2 separate regions of the Homo sapiens genome follow, and region 2 is linked to region 1. The links come from fine-mapping of genetic effects on gene expression. A gene starts in region 1. The other region holds a variant in brackets. All regions are shown on one strand. Distances are between the middles of the regions.

The links.
Region 2: its variant is fine-mapped to the expression of RFX7 in Th17 cells (Schmiedel 2018, PIP 0.95).

Annotation. Positions count from the first base shown.
Region 1 is chr15:56,238,873-56,247,818 of GRCh38, reverse strand. It overlaps RFX7 (regulatory factor X7), which reads left to right and starts at 3,940. Exons shown (of 10, transcript NM_022841.7): 1 at 3,940-4,374; 2 at 4,532-4,694. The coding sequence starts at 4,534. LOC124903569 (laforin-like) reads left to right here and starts at 3,001. Exons shown (of 3, transcript XM_047433428.1): 1 at 3,001-3,085; 2 at 3,640-3,836; 3 at 3,937-4,468. The coding sequence starts at 3,001. The coding sequence ends at 4,386. It also overlaps a transcript of TEX9 not described here. RefSeq lists enhancers at 2,031-2,676, 2,915-2,964, 2,677-3,322, 3,323-3,968 and silencers at 3,215-3,264, 3,755-4,044, 4,195-4,254, 4,345-4,414.
Region 2 is chr15:56,106,825-56,115,770 of GRCh38, reverse strand. All of the region lies in intron 5 of RFX7 (regulatory factor X7), which reads left to right. Among named protein-coding and RNA genes, the nearest start is that of NEDD4, 120 kb to the right of the region's middle. The variant TTG/G (reference allele first, on the strand shown) is at 3,390.

The DNA.
Region 1 (8,946 bases):
AAGGAGAACAGGGTAGAACTTTACCTTTTCCATATCTGGTAAACCACCATACTTTGTGGAAGTGAAATGTATACTTTCAGCACTTAATCAGTATGTACCAATAATGAAACCGACTTTCAGGCCTTCCTTTGATAGAACGATCCTAACTATAATGCAAAGTAACATTTTGTAAAGTGGGTTTTTGTCTCTCTCTCCTTCTTTTCCCTCGCCTATACTACTTTAGGATCTGATCACAGAGTCAACACCGTGCTATGCATTATTCCTTCAGCAAACAGTACCCTTTCATGGCTTCACACCAGTGCTCATGTTACTCCCTTTATCTGAAATCATCTTCCCTCTGTTGCTCTGCCTACTCAACTCCTATTCATCCAACAAGACCCAATTAAAATGCCAGCCATGATGCCTTCTCCAGTTCTTCTACCCTGAGCAAGACCAATCCCTCCCTCCATTATGACTCCACAACACTAGTGGATATGTTTATAACTCATCATCTTATATATGTTAATATGTTGCTCTACTTCACAAAAATGTAAACTACTTCAAGTTGGGGCCAGGTCTTATTTATTCATATTTTCCGTGCCCAATACTGCTATATATCAGGCATGATAAATGTATATACTACAGTCTGGACAGTATAAAATGTTTACAGTTTCATAAAGGAGACAAGGTTTACAGACACAAGAGAGCAAGACAATATAATGGATTGGGCTAGGAAAATGAGGGTTAGTTAACTACTAAATTCCACAAATATTTATTAAATAGTCAGGAGTCAGGAATTATGTCCTGGGACTACTAGGATAAATAAAATAGTCATTTCCTTTGAGGTGCTGACAATCCATCTTGTAGATACTCTCTAAATGTGGACAACACTTCCCTGGTTTACCTATAACTTTTCATGTTTTCCTTATAGCAACCCTCTGATGTACATCATTATTTTCATTTTTATAGAGATCGAAACAGAGGGTTTGAATTCCCAGGTCTTCTGACTCCAAGGCCAGGTTTTTCTAACCCACTACATCAGTGTTCCTCAAAATTTTCCTCTGGTGTACACTTTCCCAGTAGAGAATAAACTTAGGCTCCTCAGGGTTGGGTAATACTTGTGTGTTATCTTAAAAAGTCATGCTTACTACAATGTCTTACCTTATTTACCAGAGAGTCAAAATGATGCTCAGAGAAAATGAGCCACATTGATTCTGGGTCCTTGAGGGTCCTCAGTACAGGGTTGCACAATCAAAGGAACCCACATAATATGAGAAGCACATGGCTACACTCCTGCCTTTATTCAGGGTCCCTGGGTTTGGCTTGAGTCCACACTCAAAATTTTGGGTAACTTCATCAGATTTCTTAATGTCATGATTTTATTCACAGTCTTCTCTGAAGACTGGAACAAAACACCCACTGTACTCCCAGATGTTAAGTGAGTAGTGAGGGCTGCCCCTTTCCTCCCTGAAAGGGTATCTCACTCTGGCAATAAGGTCTCCTCAGTCTGATACTCTCTGCCACCCCTCCCATTGCTGGTCTCCTTCAACTCCCTGTAGGTCCTGGAAGGCCGGAAAAGGTTTACCACCACACTCCGGTCAGCACCGCCGCTAGAGGGCAGCCCGCGGCTGCAGCTTCGTGAGCCCTCTAGTGGCTGCTGGGGTGACCTGGCTCTTTTATGGAACCCATTAAAAACTCTCAGAAGTTGCACTTGGGAAGCCAGCCTGTGTGACACCCGGTAGCGAACTTTTTATAAAACGTCTTGGTTCTCGGCTTCCTTTTCTTAAGGCCTTTGGCAGACCTTAGATACGTTACCCCCTCGATGACTCTCCCACTTCCTAAGGATCTCCCCCTCCCAGGGTGTTGCAACTTGGAGCCATCATTCTCTCTTGGCAAGGCAAAAAATTAGAACCTTGGGGAACTTGGCAACTTTCCTCAACGTGATATAGGGCATACACACACACACGTATATATATACCTACATTCAAGATTTTTCAGCGTAATTCCAGTTTCAGCATAGCTTGCAGGCTCTGGAATTAAACTTCCAGGACTCAAATTTTGGCTCCTGCATTTACTAATTGGGTAATTTTAAGAATGTTAATTAACCTAAGCTTCCATTTCATCTGTAACAGAGGGAGACTAATAATACCTACATTATACACTCTTGGGGAGGAATAACTATGATAATGTATGGAAAGTGCTAGTCTGGCACACAAAGTGTTCAACAAACATTAGCTATTTTTATCCTTCAAAGCTTCTGTCTAGTGCACACCATGTCTATCAATTAGGTCCACAAAAATACTGTCTTTACACACCCACATGAAGATATGTATGCAAAATGAATGTCGTAAACCACCTATAGTTTCCTAAAGTGGCTAAGCTAATAGAGACCTTAGAGTATGGAAAAGGGGGCTCATTTGTGTGATGCAACTCGTGCAATGGGTAGTTGGAGCACAGCGTAATCCAAGAGGCCCCGGGGGCGGGGGGGCGGCTTATTTTGCACACAGGTGTTCTTCCTCCCTGCACCCCCACCCTCAACCCTCACCACGTGCAAGCATTCAGTGTGAGTCTGGGCCTTAAGTCTGTGGGCCAGGAGAGAGGGCACAGTGGACAAAAGCAAGAGGGTTTCAGGCCAAGGCAGGGAACTGAGAACTCAAAGGCCAGGCAACCCAAGCCAATCAGATTCACCATCCACTAGGAGTCTAAAAGGTGGCAGAGCCCCACAGCCCAAAGTCCACACACAGCAGGAAAGTGGCCAGAGGATCTAACAGGTAGAAACCTGATAGACACTCTATCAGAAAAGTTAAAGCTGAAGGGCTCATAACACCCACGGGCCCAAAGAAAGGTCAGTGTGAGCTGAACAGCTGTTCCATTTGGTGCCAGAGGCCTTGGCTGTTGTATTCTACATCCACGCAGCCTCCCTGATCAGCCCCACCTAGAAAAGCCAATTCTTCTGCTCTTAAAGGAGACTGACTTATTTGTGGCAAAGCTATCATTTAGGTATGAATGGGAAGGGGGGGAATGGTGCGGAGTCTGCGGGGGGAGGGCGGGTGTTCAACGGGCTCCAAAGGAAGGAGCTCGTGGCTGACGCCTGAGCCTCCATGTTGTGAGTACTACATGCGTTTCTTTCAGAGGCAGGCAGTGGCCTTGGCTGCAGGGACCCTGACAAGCCGCGACTTGAGCTATGCTTTAGAGCCTGGGTGGAATTGGGAGCGGTATAAAGGAGGGAGGGCATTCCTGGAAAGGGGGTGGGGTGGGGTGGGGAGGTGGAGGGGAACAGCATGAGCAAAGGCACGAAGGAAGAATGAATCTGCTGCGCGTTGAGGATGGCATGGAGACTTCCCTGATTGGAGCCGGGAGTTCTTGCAGGGGGATGGAGGCCGCTATGATTGGATAGTTAAAGTGGGGCCAGATTTGGAGGGCTTTGAATGCCCGACCGAGGAGCACTCAACCCAGCTCCTGACTCGCGATTTCCGTTCAAGACCGAATTACCTAAAGGGTGGTTAATTCCAACGGGTGTTCTTCTTTGGGGGCTTCTGAAAAGTCAGTTTATCGTCTTACCTGCTTCAGTTCTCTTCATTTACTCAGGGAGGAAGTAATCCTCACATGCATGTGCAGGGGAAGGGGGATAATGTTGATTTCTCTTTACTTGCTTTGAAGATGCCTCCCCCGCCCAAATCCCATTTCCACGCCAAATATTATTAAATTTGGTTTCTCCTCCTCCTCCTCACGCAAGTTCTCTTTCTCTCGCCAGCACCTCCCCCACGTTTTCCTGCTCTCCACCAGCCGGGCCGGACTCCTCCCGGCCCCCAGCGGCGCGCTTCCCTGGCCCGCTGGCCCGCGCCGCCCTCCGCGCCGTGCGCCCCCATCCCGGCCCGTCGCGCCCGCGGCCCGCACACCCTGGTCCACGCCCCCCGGCGGAGCGGTAGGTGTTGTGCGGTCTGCGCCGGGCCGCAGTGCGGCTGCGCGCACTGGGCTGCCTCCGGGGCTGGCAGGGCAGCGGCGGCCGCGGCGGCGGCGGGGCCGGGAGCGAGCGGCGGCGGCGGCGGCGGCGTGGGGAGTGGCGTGGAGCGGTGCCTGGGGCTGCAGCAGCACGGGGACCCGGCAGTAGAAAGCCCCGGGGACAAGGAAGGAAGGCTTGGCCGCCAAATCCCTGAGCAACCGTTCTTCTTGGATTTTGGGGGGAGCCTGCCCCCCCCACTTCGTCTTCAAACGCCCCCATCTCACCCCCCCACAGCCCCGGCCGCTGACGGGAGGAGGCGGCGGCGCCAGCGGGGGGCTGAGGGGCGCCGCCATGCCTCTCCCGCGGTGAAGCGCCCCGGCCGTGAGGAGCCGCTGGTCTCCCCGGTGATGTTCCCCAGGCGGCAGGCGAAAGCGACTCACTCGAGCCCTGGGGTAAAGGCCTAGCTTATCCAGCTTCCTTCCTCCTCCTCCTCCTCTTCCCCTCCCCCTCCCCCTCCTCCTCTCCCCCCTTCGTCCTCCCCTCCCGGTCTCTTCCCTCACCCTTCCCCGCGCCCCCATCTTTCCCTCCCTCCCTCCCACCCCTCTGCAGCGATGGCAGAGGAACAACAACAGCCGCCACCACAGCAGCCTGATGCCCATCAGCAGCTTCCCCCCAGCGCCCCCAACTCGGGGGTGGCCCTGCCAGCCCTTGTGCCCGGGCTGCCAGGGACAGAGGCCAGCGCGCTGCAACACAAGATCAAGAACTCCATCTGGTAAGAGGATCCTCCATCGCTCGCGTGAAAAAGCCCAGGCACATTTCTGCTGCAAAGTGGGTGGGGGGCGGCGGGCGGGGGGAGCGGAGGAGGAGGCTGATGCATTCATTGAATGTGGCTTTCCCCAGTCGGGTGCACATTTGTAGGATCTCTGGAGGTGTGCGGACTTTGCATCAATCAGCCCCTGTCTTCTTAGCTAAAAAATGCTTTTACCCCTTCCTCAATTGTGAGTGCAGATAAACAAGTTTTTTGGTTTTATTTTTTCACTCATTGTAACAGAAATATGGGTCGAAATTAAGTCATATTGCATGATGGTGGCATGAATTTGGAACTGGAGAATGTGAAATGTGTTTACTCCTTTTTGCAGCCATAGAAGGAGGAAGAAGTGTATTGTGAATTTTCACCAAACAGATACTGTGCGTAAGAATATTAATATGCAGCACAAAACCTAATGTGTCTCTTCCTTTCAGTTGGGTTAGCTGCTATTTCTGAATGTTTTTGCCTCCCTTATCCTAATATTAAATTTCTTTTTCAGGGAGTTTATTCTTTGCATTGATTGTGAAGAAAGTGCTTTTTTAGTATAAAATATTTTAAGATGGTAGTTTACAACAAAGTGGTTTTTTTTTAAATTAAAATATAGGGAATCAAATGTCTTGCCATTTGTATGTCTTTTTAAAAGAAACCATTGATGGAATATCTTTCGCTATTTTACTTTCTTGTATGAAAATTTCCAATATTTCAGCATTAAACTCCTAAAGTCTAGTGGGAATCTTTTAATAATTAAATACACTAAGTCCATCCACTGTTAGAGCCATTGCAATATTCTTTGAACATGAACTTGCATTGTTTTGTAGGATGCTTCATTAACTGCCTTTTTTAAGTGTAGCAATATTTTTTAAATGGAAAGTAATATTTGGAATTTGGTCTAAGATTGCTTTTAATAGAAGTTTAAAAAGAATTTTATATGGTATTTTAAAAAGCCTTGATTTTGAAAATGGAAATGAAATCTTTGCAGGGCCATCATTGAATATGAGTACTAAAATATCAAAACTCATTTTCTCATTTTGAAAACATATCGTAAAGCAACTGGCGTTGCATGAACAGTATTTGCACATTTTTAAAGTGACAATTTTTAAATACAAGATTTAGGTTAGTTATATAGTAATTTTCATTATTTTCTTGGCATGCATCCATGCCGTCATGATGCTGATATGAAGTAGGTCAGTGCAGGCTTTAATAGTTTCATCAACAGTAGTTGGCAGTTGAGTATCTTGCTTTCAGTTTTAATTTTAAAATGAAGTTTAAATATTTTAAAGGAGAATTTTTTTGGCTTTGACAATAGTCATGTTGTGGCAACTTGAATAGGTCTGATAGATATGATTGGGGTGTGTGTGTGTGTGTGTGACAGAAAGCAGGCTTTATTCTTCAATGGATACCCTCACCCCCTTTTTAAAGCTATAATTTAAAAGAAGAGATGGTGAATATCTTGCTTGCCATCAAGGTTTTCACAAAACCAGTGTGTATGTGTGTGTGTTTTTAACCTCTAGTAACGTGACGTAACTTTGTGTTTCTGAAATCATCATTAAATTGAATTAAGCACCTTGGTTTTACATTCAGATGTGGGAAATCCAAGTTAATGGACTAAAATCTTTTAAGAGAGACAAATTTTAAAAGTTGAATGAGTAATGTATATTTTAATTGATTATGAGAACAAGAGGGGAAAGGAATCTTCACTTTATAGTTTTAAAATAAGTGAGTTGTGGAGGCAACTGACTGAAATGTTTGAATAATGATGATAGTCGAGTGCACTTTTTGGCAAATAATGTGTAAATTTAATTTTTTTTTATATTGGCACATCCATTACAGCCTAACTGCTCTGACTTTAACATGAGAAAAACTTCTGAAGTAGAGTGCACTCCAGTTTTTGGTACTTGCTCTGAAAAAATAATGGGCAGCAAACACGTGAATCCCAAAATATGAAAATTTATATTTTTGTTTTAAAATTGTAATGATACACTTATTGGCATCTAATGATCAACTTTAGAAATCCTATTTGCAAAAATGATTTTTATATACTTAAAATTTCGGAATAAACAACATTTGTAGATAATAAACAAAATTAGTAAATATACTTAATAGTGTCATACCCCCTGCTCCACAAGAATGGATTTATATTATTCATCAAGTGACTATGTAAAATAAAGATATCAAAAGTGAAAACTCCTTTACTACCATATATTCCTAAGAAATAGTATATATGTATTAAATCATTTTTAATAGATGATTGCAGTTAGATATTTCACATTTTTGAGACAATAATATTATTTTACAAATTATTTTATCACCTGATAATATTCTGAGAGACTATCAGTTTTGTACTACTTCCTGAATCATCCTTTGGTGCCATTATTAATGAGAGTTTAAAATTACACTCAAAAGAAATGTGACATTTAAAAATTATCAAATGGGTTTTGCATTTGGTTTATCATAGTTTCTAAATTACTGGGCTTGCATATCACAAACAAGTCTGTACTTGTCCTCCTACTCTACAAATATAAATATAGTATGTGATGTAGGCCTTTGGACAATAAGTTATCAGTTCATAATTTACTCTGTTTATTAAACTGAAATATGGTTTGATAAAAGTATGTGCATTGAAATATCAGGCATTAAATGAGTCTGGAAAAAAAGCATTCAAAGTTGAGTGGAAAAGAGTTGGAAATATATTTTAAAGGTAATTATAGAAAATAAGGTTAGTACAAAATTGACAATGTTGTTATGTTTCTATAATATGGTTATGAATACCTTCAAGTTAACTCTAGGTTAACAAGCTTGCATGTTTCTTACCCTTACTCATTCTTACTCCATAGACAAAAGGTCCAAATCACTGACACTATTCACTAGAAAGGAGATTTCTTAGTAGGCATGTGCTTTAGTATTGAATATGCTGTAAGGTTATTTGTATTTTCTAAAAAGTAGAATTCCAAAATTAGCTTTTTGTTGTTAAAAAAAAAAAAAGAAAACTAGTAACCCATGTATTTTTACCTAAAACAAGGCCACAACCCAACCTAACTGCAAACTTCTTTTAGCTTAAATTGTACCCCTCTTTGGTTACTTCAAAAAAAAAAAAAAAAAAAAAAGAAATACCAAAGCAAGTTTTCCCTTCCTCTTATCTCTCAGTGTCTTCGTAGTTTAGTGAAAATTTTTTAGTGTAAGCAACAGTAAACACATTTACTAAGTCCTTTTATTTACCTTTTTAAGGCAGTTTTACTTGAAACCCTGATAGAATAAAATTGCTGTGGAAAAAATAGGATTGAGATGGTTTCTGCCTGTTTGTGAATTGAGATCATACCTACATGAGTGGGAGTGAATAACATATTTGCAGTGAGGCTGTAACATAGATACAGGTTGATCATCCCTAATCCAAAATCCCCCAGAATTCAAGATGCTCCAGAATCTGAAACACTCCAAAATCCCAAACGTTTTTAGTGCCACAAGTGAAAAATTCCACACCTGACTTCATTGTATCACACACAAAATTATTTAAAATATTGTATAGGCCAGGCGCGGTGGCTCACACCTGTAATCCCAGCACTCTGGGAGGCTGAGGCGGGCGGATCACCTGAGGTCAGGAGTTCAAGACCAGCCTGGCCATGGTGAAACCCCGTCTCTACTAAAAATACAAAAAATTAGCCGAGGGTGGTGGTGCCCACCTGTAATCCTGGCTACTCGGGAGGCTGAGGCAGGAGAATCGCTTGAACCCAGGAGGCGGAGGTTGCTGTGAGCCGAGATTGCACCATTGCACTCCAGTCTGGGCAACAAGAGCAAAACTCCGTTAAAAAAAAAATTGTATAAAAATTACCTTCAGGTTATGTGTATAAGGTGTATATGAAACATAAATGAATTTCTTGTTTAGACTTGGGTTACATCCCTAAGATGCTCATTACACATATGCAAGTATTCCAAAATCCAAAATAATAAATTGGAGGCACACTAGGCGCAGTGGCTCACGCCTGTAATCCTAACACTTTGGGAGGTCAAGGTGGGCAGATTGCCTGAGTTCAGGAGTTTGCGACCAGCCTGGGCAACACGGTGAAACCCCGTCTCTACTGAAATCCAAAAAATTATCCAGGTGTGGCATCGTGCGCCTGTAGTCCCAGCCACTTGGGAGGCTGAGGCAGGAGAATCCCTTGAACCCAGGAGGTGGAGGTTGCAGTGAGCCGAGATCATGCCACTGCACTCCAGCTGGGCG
Region 2 (8,946 bases), 130 kb after region 1:
GAGACAGGATTTCACCGTCTTAGCCAGGATGGTCTCAATCTCCTGATCTCATGATCTGCCCACCTCAGCCTCCCAAAGTGCTGGGATTACAGGCCTGAGCCACCGTGCCGGGCCTATATGCAGTTAATTTAAAACAACGGAGACCTCAGGCAATCCAAAAATGAAAGTATGTATACAAAGAGAGCTCATACTATATGTAGAGTATGATCAATATATTTATCACATATGTGTGTGTGTGTCTTTGCTTTAAAAATAACAATCCAAATTCACCAAAAGAATAGTCATTTTTTAAAAGCCTGAATACACTAAGCAGACAGCCCCAGTTTCCCCTTCCACCACACACGTGTCAACTATAAATCTTTCTGTCTGTATGGATTTCTGTACTGTGGATATTTCATATAAATGGAATCATACAATAAAAAAAGAATAGTTATTTTAGCTGGGCACAGAGGCTCACCCCTGTAATCCCAGCGGCTCACCCCTGTAATGCCAGCACTTTGGGAGGCCGAGGCAGGCAGATCACCTGAGGTCAGGAGTTCGAGACCAGCCTGGCCAACATGGCAAATCCCTGTCTCTAGTAAAAATACAAAAAATTAAGCTGGGCATGGTGGTGGGCGCTTATAATCCCAGCTACTCGGGAGGCTGAGGCAGGAGAATTGCTTGAACCCAGAGGTGGAGGTTGCAGTGAGCAGAAATCACGCCATTGCACTCAAGGCTGGGCAACAGAGCGAGACTCTGTCTCAAAAATAAAATAAAAATAAAAAAAGAATAGTCATTTTAAATGGCTTCTTCATAGGCCATGAGAACTCAAGCCTTTAAGATTTACTTTTTACTGTGATTAAGTAAAGACACAAATTTCTTTTTAAAATCTTGAGGATTTATCAGATGACTTCATAAACTATGGGATTTTTTTTATTAGCAATTTATAAACTTCAGGTTAAGGTTCTTAACCTGTGAATCATGATTCACCATGACTGAATCTTTTTTGTAGGATTATTAGCCAAAATGATGGAAAGGAAAGGCAAGTCCTGGTTAAGGAGGGTCATATATGATAGTTTTTTTATATATAAATAATTTAACTCTTCTTTAGTTTTGACTTCAAGCAAAGTAATCTTTCAGATATATTGTTCATTGTGTAGTTACCACAAAAAAAAGCATTATCAATGAGTTTCAAAGGTGATATATTAGTATGATCCTAGTCTAAGATCAGCTTACTAGTACTACTATCATTGTTCAACATACTATATCATTGTTCTGCCCAAAACACAGAACAATACGAAAACGATAAATTTCTTTTTTCTTTTTCTTTTCCTTTTCTGTTGTTTTTTTGTTGTTGTTGTTTGTTTTTTTTTTTTTTTTGGAGACAGAATCTCACTCTGTTGCCTAGGCTGGAGTGCAGTGGCGTGATCTCTGATCACTGCAACCTCCACCTCCCGGGTTAAAGCATTTCTCCTGCCTCAGCCTCCCAAGTAACTGGGATTACAGGCGCCCACCACCATGCCCAGTTAATTTTTTTTTTCTGTATTTTTAATAGAGACAGGGTTTCACCAGGTTGCCCAGGCTGGTCCTGAACTCCTGAGCTCAGGCAGTCGCCCACCTCGGCCTCCCAGAGCGCTAGGAATACAGGCATGAGCCACCACACTCAACTGGAAAAGACCAATTTCTTTATGGTTAGGGTCAGGCACTTTTGAAGAGTTTTCTCTCCAGAGTCTTAAGATCTATTTACTCCTTAAAAATAAGGGAGGATTACAACAACTTTTCCACTTTCTAAGGCTCAAGCTAATTAGATATTTGACCATATTACTTGTACTTCATTTGTCTTTCAGATTGTCTAGCAAATGTTTTGTTTGATTAATACTTTTAAGGCAATGTAATTCTACCATGTCTTTGGGACCTCCCAAAATTCCCATATCCTTTATTGTCATTTATAATATTTGAATACTAAGACTCACTAAAATAACATTATGGGTCTAGGTAAGTCTTAAGAGTCCTTTTAATGGAAAATTGATAATTCTTAATTATTTTTATAAATATTAGGAAAAAATTTAATGATGTAATTTTGGTTACAATACAAGCATTCAGTTTACTTTTTTTTTTTTTAATTTTATTTTACTCTACATTCCGGGATACATGTGCAGAATGTGCAGGTTTGTTACATAGGTAAACATGTGCCATGGTGGTTTGCTGCACCTACCAACCTGTCACCTAGGTATTAAGCCCCTCATGCATTAGCTATTTGTCCTAATGCTCTTTCCTCCCCTCACCGCCCCCGCAACAGGCCATGATGTGTGTTGGTCCCCTCCCTGTGTCCATGTGTTCTCATTGTTCAGCTCCCACTTACGAGTAAGAACATGCAGTGTTTGGTTTTCTGTTCCTGCATTAGTTTGCTGAGGATGATGGCTTCCAGCTTGATCCATGTCCCTGCAAAGGACATGATCTCATTCCTTTTAATGGCTGCATAGTATTCCATGGTGTATATGTACATTTTCTTTATCCAGTCTATCATTGATGGGCATTTTGGTTGGTTCTATGTTTTTGCTATTGTGAATAGTGCTGCAGTAAACATACATTTGCATGTGTCTTTATAATAGAATGATTTATATTCCTTTGGGTATATACCCAGTAATGGAATTGCTGAGTCAAATGGTATTTCTAGTTCTAGATCCTTGAGGAAGCTCCACACTGTCTTCCACAATGGTTGAACTAATTTACATTCCCACCAACAGTGTAAAAGTGTTCCTATTTCTCCACATCCTTGCCAACATGTGTTGTTTCTTGACTTTTTAATAATCGCCATTCTGACCGGCATGAGATGGTATCTCTTTGTGGTTTTGATTTGCATTTCTCTAATGATCAGTGAAGTTGAGATTTTTTTCATATTTTTGTTGGTTGCATAAATACCTTCTTTTGAGAAGTGTCTGTTTATGTCCTTTGCCCACTTTTTGATGGGGTTGTTTGTTTTTATCTGGTAAATTTAAGTCCCATGTAAATTCTGGATCTTAGACCTTTGTCCATAGGTAAATTGCAAAAATTTTCTCTCATTCTATAGGTTGGTTGTCTGTTCGCTCTGATGATAGTTTCTTTTGCTGTGCAGCTCTTTAGTTTAACTAGATCCCAGTTGTCAGTTTTAGCTTTTGTTGGAATTGCTTGTGGCGATTTCTTCATAAAATCTTCTCCCATGCCTATGTCCTGAATGGTATTGCCTAGATTTTCTTCTAGGATTTTTATGGTTTTGGGTTTTACATTTAAGTCTTTAATCCATCTTGAGTAAATTTGTGTATAAGGTGTAAGAAAGGGGTCCAGTTTCAGTTTTCTGCATATGGCTAGCGAGTTTTCCCAGTACGATTTCTTAAATAGGTTTGTAGTTCTTTTTTTTTTTTTTTTTTTTT[TTG/G]ATTTGTACTCTGATATTTTTTATTCTGTTCCAAATAAATTCTGGTCAGGATGCACTAAATTTATTTTTACAATTTACTAATGAAGCATTACTTTAATTTTGAAAAATACCGTACTAGTGCATAGCCAGTCTATGTTACAGTTACCTGTTTGAAGAGAGCTCTACCATCTTAGGCAAGTTATTTAATTTCTGAGTCCTCAGTTTTCTCATCTGCCAAATGAAAAGGCTGAACCAGGTTAGTGATTCTTTTTTTTTTTTTTTTTCTGGGGCAAAGTGTCCCTCTATTGCCCAGCCTGGAGTGCAGTGGCGAAATCTCAGCTCACTGCAACCTCCGCCTCCTGGGTTCAAGTGATTCTCCTGCCTCAGCCTCCCGAGTAGCTGGGACTATAGGCACACACCACCACGCCCGGCTAGTTTTTGTATTTTTAGTAGAGACAGGGTTTCACAATATTGGCCAGGCTGGTCTCGACCTCCTGACCTCGTGATCCACCCGCCTCGGCCTCCCAAAGTGCTGGGACTACAGGGATGAGCCACTGCACCTGGCATTAGTGATTCTTAATCCTGGTTGCACATGAGAAATACCTGGAGAACTTTTAGATACACTTGTCTGGATCCAGGTTTTTGCCCTCAGAATTTCTGATTCTGATTCTGATTTAATGGTTTTAGGGTGGGGCCTATGCCCTGGTATTGTTTTTTTGGTTTTTTTTTTTTTTTTTTTGGTTTATTTATTTTTTTATTGATCATTCTTGGGTGTTTCTCGCAGAGGGGGATTTGGCAGGGTCACAGGACAATAGTGGAGGGAAGGTCAGCAGATAAACAAGTGAACAAAGGTCTCTGGTTTTCCTAGGCAGAGGACCCTGCGGCCTTCCTCAGTGTTTGTGTCCCTGGGTACTTGAGATTAGGGAGTGGTGATGACTCTTAACGAGCATGCTGCCTTCAAGCGTCTGTTTAACAAAGCACATCTTGCACCGCCCTTAATCCATTTAACCCTGAGTGGACACAGCACATGTTTCAGAGAGCACCGGGTTGGGGGTAAGGTCACAGATCAACAGGATCCCAAGGAAGAAGAATTTTTCTTAGTACAGAACAAAATGAAAAGTCTCCCATGTCTACCTCTTTCTACACAGACACGGCAACCATCCGATTTCTCAATCTTTTCCCCACCTTTCCCCCCTTTCTATTCCACAAAACCGCCATTGTCATCCTGGCCCGTTCTCAATGAGCTGTTGGGTAAACCTCCCAGACGGGGTGGTGGCCGGGCAGAGGGGCTCCTCACTTCCCAGTAGGGGCGGCCGGGCAGAGGCGCCCCTCACCTCCCGGACAGGGTGGCTGGCCGGGTGGGGGGCTGACCCCCCCACCTCCCTCCCAGACGGGGTGGCTGGCCGGGCGGGGGGCTGACCCCCCCCACCTCCCTCCCGGACGGGGCAGCTGGCCGGGCAGAGGGGCTCCTCACTTCCCAGTAGGGGCGGCAGGGCAGAGGCTCCCCTCACCTCCCGGACGGGGCAGCTGGCCGGGCAGAGGGGCTCCTCACTTCCCAGTAGGGGCGGCAGGGCAGAGGCGCCCCTCACCTCCCGGACAGGGTGGCTGGCCGGGTGGGGGGCTGACCCCCCCACCTCCCTCCCAGACGGGGTGGCTGGCCGGGCGGGGGGCTGACCCCCCCCACCTCCCTCCCGGACGGGGCGGCTGGCCGGGCAGAGGGGCTCCTCACTTCCCAGTAGGGGCGGCCGGGCAGAGGCGCCCCTCACCTCCCGGACAGGGTGGCTGGCCGGGTGGGGGGCTGACCCCCCCACCTCCCTCCCAGACGGGGTGGCTGGCCGGGCGGGGGGCTGACCCCCCCCACCTCCCTCCCGGACGGGGCAGCTGGCCGGGCAGAGGGGCTCCTCACTTCCCAGTAGGGGCGGCAGGGCAGAGGCTCCCCTCGCCTCCCGGATGGGGCGGCTGGCCGGGCGGGGGGCTGACCCCCCCTCCCCCGGACGGGGCGGCTGGCCGGGCGGGGGGCTGACCCCCCCCACCTCCCTCCCGGACGAGGCGGCTGGCCAGGCGGGGGGCTGACCCCCCCCCCACCTCCCTCCCGGACGGGGCGGCTGGCCAGGCGGGGGGCTGACCCCCCCCCACCTCCCTCCCGGACGGGGCGGCTGGCCGGGCAGAGGGGCTCCTCACTTCCCAGTAGGGGCGGCCAGGCAGAGGCTCCCCTCACCTCCTGGACGGGGCGGCTGGCCAGGCGGGGGGCTGACCCCCCCACCTCCCTCCCGGACTGGGCGGCTGGCCGGGCGGGGGGCTGACCCCCCCACCTCCCTCCCAGACGGGGCGGCTGGCTGGGCAGAGGGGCTCCTCATTTTCCAGTAGGGGCGGCCGGGCAGAGGCGCCCCTCGCCTCCCGGACGGGGCGGCTGGCCGGGCAGGGGGCTGATCCCCCCACCTCCCTCCCGGATGGGGCGGCTGGCCAGGCGAGGGTCTGACCCCCCCATCTCCCTCCCGGACGGGGTGGCTGCCGGGCGGAGACACTCCTCACTTCCCAGACGGGGTGGCTGCCGGGCGGAGGGGCTCCTCACTTCTCAGACAGGGCGGCTGCTGGGCGGAGGGGCTCCTCACTTCTCAGACAGGGCGGTTGCCAGGCAGAGGGTCTCCTCACTTCTCAGACGGGGCGGCCGGGCAGAGACGCTCCTCACATCCCGGACGGGGCGACAGGGCAGAGGCGCTCCCCGCATCTCAGACGATGGGCGGCCGGACAGAGACGCTCCTCACTTCCTAGATGGGATGGCGGCAGGGAAGAGGCGCTCCTCACTTCCTAGATGGGATGGCGGCTGGGCAGAGACGCTCCTCACTTTCCAGACTGGGCAGCCAGGCAGAGGGGCTCCTCACATCCCAGACGATGGGCGGCCAGGCAGAGACGCTCCTCACCTCCCAGACCGGGTGGCGGCCAGGCAGAGGCTGCAATCTCGGCACTTTGGGAGGCCAAGGCAGGCTGCTGGGAGGTGGATGTTGTAGCGAGCCGAGATCACGCCACTGCACTCCAGCCTGGGCACCAATGAGCACTGAGTGAAGGAGACTCCGTCTGCAATCCCGGCACCTCGGGAGGCCGAGGCTGGCGGATCACTCGCGGTTAGGAGCTGGAGACCAGCCTGGCCAACACAGCGAAACCCCGTCTCCACCCAAAAAATACGAAAACCAGTCAGGCGTGGCGGCGCGCGCCTGCAATCGCAGGCACTCGGCAGGCTGAGGCAGGAGAATCAGGCAGGGAGGTTGCAGTGAGCCGAGATGGCAGCAGTACAGTCCAGCTTCGGCTCGGCATCAGAGGGAGACCGTGGAAAGAGGGAGAGGGAGAGGCAGAGGGAGTGGGAGAGGGAGAGGGAGAGGGAGAAGGTTTGTAGTTCTTGAAGAGGTCCTTCACTTCCCTTGTTAGCTGTATTGCTAGGTATTTTATTCTCTGTAGCAGTTGTGATTGGGAGTTCATTCATGATTTGGCTCTCTGCTTGTCTATTGATGTATAGGAATGCTTGTGATTTTTGCATATAGATTTTGTATTCTGAGACTTTGCTGAAGTTGCTTATCAGTTTAAAGAGTTTTTGGGCTGAGACAATAGGGTTTTCTAAATATAGGATCATGTTGTCTACAGACAGAGACAGTTTGACTTTGTCTCTTCCTATTTAAATATCCTTTCTTTCTTTCTCTTGCCTGATTGCCCTGGCCAGAACTTCCAGTACTATGTTGAATAGGAGTGGTAAGAGTACATTCTTGTCTTGTGCCGGTTTTCAAAAGGAATGCTTCCAGCTTTTGCCCATTCAGTATGATATTGGCTGTGTTTGTCATAAATAACTCTTATTATTTTGAGATATGTTCCATCAATACCTAGTTTATTGAGAGTTTCTAACATAAAGGGATATTGCATTTTTTCGAAGGCCTTTTCTGCATTTATTGAGAGAATCATGTGGTTTTTGTCATTGGTTCTGTTTATGTGATGGATGACATTTATTGATTTACATATGTTGAACCAACCTTGCTTCCCAGGGATGAAGCTGACTTGATGGTGGTGGATAAGCTTTTTGATATGCTGCTGGATTCAGTTTGCCAGTATTTTATTGAGGATTTTTGCATTGATGTTCGTCAGGGATACTGGCCTGAAGTTTTTTGTTGTGTCTCTGCCAGGATTTGGTATCAGGATGATGCTGGCCTCATAAAATGAGTTAGGGAGGAGTCCTTCCTTTTCAATTATTTGGGATAGTTTCAGAAGGAATGGTACCAGCTCCTCTTTGTACCTCTGGTAGAATTTGGCTTTGAGTCCATCTGGTCCTGGGCTTTTTTTGGTTGGTAGGCTATTTATTACTGCCTCAATTTCAGAACGTGTTATTGGTCTATTCAAAAATTCAACTTCTTCCTGGTTTAGTCTTGGGAGGGTGTATGTGTCCAGGAATTTTTCCATTTCTTCTAGATTTTCTAGTTTATTTGCGTAGAGGTGTTTATAGTATTCTCTGATGGTAGTTGTATTTCTGTGGGATCAGTGGCGATATCCCCTGTATCATTTTTTATTGGTTTATTATCATTTTTTATTGTTTTATCTGTGGGATCAGTGGCGATATCGCCTGCATCATTTTTTATTGCTATTTGATTCTTCTTTATTCATTCAGTATGCTTATAGTTATCAATTAGCAATAAAAATACCTCATCTGTTAAATAAAGGGATTAGTGCACCTCTCTGTGCAAGTTCCTCATCTATAAAATATGTTTAATAAAACTACCTGTCTTAAGGTTGTTGAGAGGATTAAATGATTTAACACAAAGAAAGCACTCAAAAAATGTCAGGTATGGTTAGGTATCCCATGACTATATTTTACCACAAGTCTTTTGTGATTCATTGTTTATATTTTTGTACCATTAAACAATGTTTACCTTTAACTTGTACAATTAAATTTGTGACATGAATGAATATTAAAGACTGAATTGTTACCATGGATTTTGAGTGATGTGTTCATAGTCATATTGAATATTAGGCTTAATTTCAGGCTTAAAAATGTACTTTTAAACAAGGAGCAAGAGAAAAAAAAAAACAATTCTTTCTTCTTTTTTTTTTTTTTTTTTTTTTTTTTGAGACGGAGTCTTGCTCTACTGCCCAGGCTGGAGTGCAGTGGCGCGATCTCGGCCCACTGCAAGCTCCGCCTCCTGGGTTCACGCCATTCTCCTGCCTCAGCCTCCCGAGTAACTGGGACTACAGGCGCCTGCCACCACGCCCAGCTAATTTTTTGTATTTTTAGTAGAGGCAGGGTTTCACCGTGTTAGCCAGGATGGTCTCGATCTCCTGACCTTGTGATCTGCCTGCCTCGGCCTCCCAAAGTGATGGGATTACGGGTGTGAAATTATTTCATTTTTAAAATGACATTAGAGTGTTAGTGATCGCGTAAACAGAACATTCTCCGTTCCTCACCCTTTTTTGAGTCTTGCAAAGTATAATCTGACACTGAGTTAAGAGTCAATTGACACTGTATCTTGCTTGGTCAACCTGCAGTTAACGTTGTGAAGCAGGAAAATGAGATGTAAACTAACCAAGATCTCCACATGGCC